Linked DNA regions of Homo sapiens: region 1 is linked to region 2. A link means that fine-mapping ties the variant in region 2 to the expression of a gene that starts in the linked region. Tissue or cell type: nucleus accumbens. Region 2 holds a variant in brackets; the other region holds the start of a gene. All regions are shown on one strand. Distances are from middle to middle.

What was found. PIP is the estimated chance that this variant, and not a neighbour inherited with it, causes the effect.
Region 1: MGMT starts here. The variant in region 2 is fine-mapped to the expression of MGMT in nucleus accumbens (GTEx, PIP 0.92).

Annotation. Positions count from the first base shown.
Region 1 is chr10:129,465,682-129,468,346 of GRCh38, forward strand. It overlaps MGMT (O-6-methylguanine-DNA methyltransferase), which reads left to right and starts at 1,560. Exons shown (of 5, transcript NM_002412.5): 1 at 1,560-1,615. RefSeq lists silencers at 1,200-1,639, 1,660-1,859 and an enhancer at 1,426-2,348.
Region 2 is chr10:129,783,826-129,786,665 of GRCh38, forward strand. LOC107984281 (a long non-coding RNA gene) reads left to right here. Exons shown (of 11, transcript NR_186705.1): 2 at 1,124-1,481. Among named protein-coding and RNA genes, the nearest start is that of MIR4297, 58 kb to the right of the region's middle. The variant C/G (reference allele first, on the strand shown) is at 1,449.

The sequences.
Region 1 (2,665 bases), 320 kb before region 2:
TCATCCAAGGCAGGGTCGGGGTGGGGAACCTCAGAGGATCAATGATGCAGCCTGTATTGTCACCAGGGCTCATCCCAAAGCAAATCCTGCTGAAGTTCTCCTCTGAACAACCCTTATCACTCATGCTAATATGTTGGATCCTGCAAGTCACAAATACGAAGGTATGAGCATTGGCCGAATCCCAACAGGGAAACTTCACCGGGAAGGTGAAGACCCCTTTCCATTAAGATAACAAACAGAACCTAGAAGGCCCGTAGCATGGTGGCTTAGAACATGTGGGCCTTGGATGGGATCCTGCCAAGGGGTGTGTGACCTCTCCGAAGCCTCCAGGGATGATACTACTCCCTGGGGTGCTTATGCCAACCACGTTAGAGACAATGGTTTCTGTACCCATTGCCTGGGGCTGCCATAATAAAGTGCCACACACTGAGTGGCTTAAAACAACAGAAACCTATTGTCTCACACTTCCGGGGGCCAGAAGTTTGAAACCCAGGTGTGTTAGGATCCTGCTCCCTCTGAAGGCTCCAGGGAAGAGTGTCCTCTGCTCCCTCCGAAGGCTCCAGGGAAGGGTCTGTCCTCTTAGGCTTCTGGTGGCTTGCAGGTGCAGCCCTCCAATCCTCCTCCCCAAGCGGCCTTCTGCCTATAAGGACACGAGTCATACTGGATGAGGGGCCCACTAATTGATGGCTTCTGTAAAGTCCCCATCTCCAAATAAGGTCACATTGTGAGGTACTGGGAGTTAGGACTCCAACATAGCTTCTCTGGTGGACACAATTCAACTCCTAATAACGTCCACACAACCCCAAGCAGGGCCTGGCACCCTGTGTGCTCTCTGGAGAGCGGCTGAGTCAGGCTCTGGCAGTGTCTAGGCCATCGGTGACTGCAGCCCCTGGACGGCATCGCCCACCACAGGCCCTGGAGGCTGCCCCCACGGCCCCCTGACAGGGTCTCTGCTGGTCTGGGGGTCCCTGACTAGGGGAGCGGCACCAGGAGGGGAGAGACTCGCGCTCCGGGCTCAGCGTAGCCGCCCCGAGCAGGACCGGGATTCTCACTAAGCGGGCGCCGTCCTACGACCCCCGCGCGCTTTCAGGACCACTCGGGCACGTGGCAGGTCGCTTGCACGCCCGCGGACTATCCCTGTGACAGGAAAAGGTACGGGCCATTTGGCAAACTAAGGCACAGAGCCTCAGGCGGAAGCTGGGAAGGCGCCGCCCGGCTTGTACCGGCCGAAGGGCCATCCGGGTCAGGCGCACAGGGCAGCGGCGCTGCCGGAGGACCAGGGCCGGCGTGCCGGCGTCCAGCGAGGATGCGCAGACTGCCTCAGGCCCGGCGCCGCCGCACAGGGCATGCGCCGACCCGGTCGGGCGGGAACACCCCGCCCCTCCCGGGCTCCGCCCCAGCTCCGCCCCCGCGCGCCCCGGCCCCGCCCCCGCGCGCTCTCTTGCTTTTCTCAGGTCCTCGGCTCCGCCCCGCTCTAGACCCCGCCCCACGCCGCCATCCCCGTGCCCCTCGGCCCCGCCCCCGCGCCCCGGATATGCTGGGACAGCCCGCGCCCCTAGAACGCTTTGCGTCCCGACGCCCGCAGGTCCTCGCGGTGCGCACCGTTTGCGACTTGGTGAGTGTCTGGGTCGCCTCGCTCCCGGAAGAGTGCGGAGCTCTCCCTCGGGACGGTGGCAGCCTCGAGTGGTCCTGCAGGCGCCCTCACTTCGCCGTCGGGTGTGGGGCCGCCCTGACCCCCACCCATCCCGGGCGAGCTCCAGGTGCGCCCCAAGTGCCTCCCAGGTGTTGCCCAGCCTTTCCCCGGGCCTGGGGTTCCTGGACTAGGCTGCGCTGCAGTGACTGTGGACTGGCGTGTGGCGGGGGTCGTGGCAGCCCCTGCCTTACCTCTAGGTGCCAGCCCCAGGCCCGGGCCCCGGGTTCTTCCTACCCTTCCATGCTGCCAGCTTTCCCTCCGCCAGCTGCTCCAGGAAGCTTCCAGAAGCCCCTGCGCGGGCCTTGGCTTGCAGCAACCCTTTAGCATACTTAGGCAGAGTCCCATATTTCCTTCCTGCTGGAGGCCAAGTTCTAGGGGCCTTCTGGTTACTATGGCTGGTGTTTGTGTACATCATACCCTAACTGTATTCATCAACACTTAGAGTAAGCAAGGCTCGCTGGAGAGCCACACACACTGGGCACCGTAATGTCGGTTATAACACCGCAGAGGAGTTCTGAACTATGTATTTCGCACTCCTGGGTTCATCATCTCCTGAAATCTCAGGGTGGTGTTTGCTCTCAGTTGCTTCAGCTGAGTAGCTGGCTTTCTGTCCTGGAAAGCAGACTTTGTACATGTGTGTGCAACCTATGCCTGCTGAGATCATCATCAGACAGGGAAGCGGCTTGGTCCAGAGAGCTGTTCTCAGTAGAATGTTAAGCACAGAGAGCTGAGAATTAGACTGGTTATTTACATAGACATCCAAATAGAAACCTATAGAGTATCTGTTAAGTCAGGCTCTCCCGTCATCTCCCCCATCCCTGGGCAGGTGTCTAGGAGATGGTTTTGTTATTTTCAGGGCCCTCTCAATGGCTAAAACACTCTGGGAGATGAACAAGATTTTAAAAACCCAAAGCTTAGCGCACCTGGTGGGTGGGGGTGTGAAAACTTTGAAGGAAACCGCGTCAAGAGCCT
Region 2 (2,840 bases):
CAGGTACGATCAGTGGTGTTTTATTAAACTAAATTTTTAAATTGTGCTTACAGACATAAAATTGTGGAAGAGAGATCATCAGATTATTTGCAGGAAGACATCTTAGTGGAAGTTGGACAGTTGGAGAGAGCTGCTTTGGTTGTGTGCCTATGTGTGAGTGAGTTGGGGAGAATTACTTTGGTGTGTGGGCCTGTGTGTGAGTGAGTTGTGCAGAGTCGCTTTGGTGTGTGGGCCTGTGTGTGAGTGAGTTGGGAAGAATTGCTTTGTGTGTCTGTGAGTGAGTGTGTCTGTGTGTGTGTTGTGTTGCTTTTCAGAGTTATTCAACTCTTATAAAAATGTCTTTATTTTCTAAGAAAGAAATAGTTGTTATCACTTTGAAAATATGATCCATGATTGTGTTTTAAAACTATATATATGGCCATGTTGTAACATTTTTTAAAAAGACCATCTGCAGAGCAAGGTGCTTCAGTGATTATCTCAGCACGAGGAAATCACTTCATTTTTTGTGTGCTTAACTGTACATTCTCAATTTTTGCCATGGAAATGCATTATGTTTGTAATCATAAAAGAACACACTTACTGGGTGAAGAGGAAGGACCCTGACACATGTACTAAGAAGACAGCATGGGCCCACGCATCTGACCACGTGACTGGTGTCACGTGCTTGACCAGCTGTTTATCAGCTTCGCCTCTCCACTTGCAGGGCAGCTGAGCACAAATACTCCAGGTGAGGTCATGCCCAGCCTGTCATCAGATAGCACATCAACATAAATGCAGTATCACTTCAGGGCTGTGAGGTCTCAGAGGGAGGGGAAAGGGTGAACTAGAAAATGAAGAGGGGCGTCCTGAAGGAGGTGGCAATCAAACTGCATCAGCTGGAGCTGGGCAGGACATAGAGGGCATCTTGAGTAAAAGAAGCAACTGGACTCCAGGGAAGAGGAGAGGAGGGCCCAGGTGCCACGGTCCCTACAAGATGAGACTTGGGGACTGGAGGGCCAGGCTGGGAGAGGGCAGACCCCTTTGCCATGAGCACAGGCAATGTGGGGCCAGTTCTTAGTGACATTTCAGATGGTGACCAGTCAGAGGACAGCAGGACGTGGTGGTCATCTACTCTCTTTCACAGGGGACACAGTGGGCCCAGCACCCCGGCCACATGTGATGGAGCCTCCAGGCCTGCCCAGCACCTACTGCCCTGGGACAGGCTCTCTTTCAAGTCAGCTCCTCTGTCCAGGAAGCATCTGAGAGGCCCTGTGGTCCTGGCCAAGGAGGCAGGCCGTAAGGAGGGCAGGCCCGAGGACGTAGGTGTGGCAACACTCCGTGTGGAGTAGTCTCTGAGGCCAGACCTGCGGTTCCTGTTTCCTGTGCCCTGGGGACCCAGAGAAAGAAGACGGATGGGCGCTGCAGTGGGGCGGAGCAGGCCTGAGCCCAGCTCGAGGAAAGCTTGCCTT[C/G]TCGTCTAGTGTCCCCGTGTTTTACATAATTAGGTAAGTCACTTAATGTCGCTGTGTCTTGTTAGAGAAGCTACTAATCCTTAGAGCTAACAGAACTAACTAATTAGTGTAGAACACTTGGAAAATATAAGAAATTCAGATGTAGAGTGTAATGTCCCAGTCCTCCCGGCATTGATGCTCGCACAGTGTCCCTGGTAGAGCCGCGGGCCTGGCTGCATCAGGAGGGATGGGTCTTGGAGGCGGTGGCATAATTGAGACACCTGTTCTGAAGCCCCAGGGCTGCCGGCCACACACCCTGCCCTGCTTAGCCAGCTGTAGGCCACGTGGGGACAACAAAAAGGGAACTATCCAGGGGCCATCTGCCTTGCTACCCCGGCACCTTGAGGCAGGGGCAGCCAGGTCAGGGGACCATGGGCTCAGAGCCCGTCGGAGCCACAGGGAGGTGCTGACATGGCCTGAGGGCTGGAGCTTCCCCCTGGGAGTGCCTGGGCTTCCACAGACTGGTGGTGGCCGAGGTCAGGGGAGCCGGATGTGGCAAGCCCCGGGTTTGGCTCTGGACACTGCCCATGACTGGCCATGCCTCAGCAAACCTGCTTTGCCCTCCGCCTTCTCTTCTCTGAAACGGAGCTAATGACGCCGCCTCGCAGCTCCTCCAGAAGGTAAAGACGGGATTACGGGACACCTGGCACACAGCCTGGCGGATGGCACTCACTGCTGTTTTCCTCCGTGACAGAGAACCGCAGAACTTCCTTCACAGTTGGCGAGCTATTCAGAAATGATACCCGAGTCCGAGGCTCGGCCTTCACTCGCTCCAAGCTCCGGTGGCACCTGCAGCCACCTGTAGGGTGTGCCTTTTCCTCTAGTATTATTGGAAATAAGATAGACAATCAAGTGTTCACTTCCTAAGGATGTATGGAGCTGTCGGCAAATCATTAATCTCTCTTTAAACCACGGTGACAATATTTACATTTAAGATCAAGATGATGATTATCTGAAGAACTCCCCTGGAAGCTCTTCTCACAACTGGAAAAACACAGCAGCCAGTTAGCAGAGCCACGTCCCAGGCCAAAATAACTGCCTGACAGTCCACGGGGCCAGGAGTCTACAGGGTGTTGGCGTGGGGAGGCGTGCTTCCCGCAGAGGCTGGAGGGCTGCTGTTGGCAGAGTAGATGGAGCTGCTCGGGGCACAGCATTCTGGCCCAACCTTGCAGGAATGTGGTTCTGACAAACCAGCTGGAGAAAAGCATTTCTGAAAAGAACTGTTTTAAGTTATTAAAAAAAAAAAAAAAGAATTTGGGGGCCTGACACGGTGGCTCATGCCCGTAATCGCAGCACTTTGGGAGGCTGAGACAGGTGGATCATCCGAGGTCAGGAGTTTGAGACCAGCCTGGC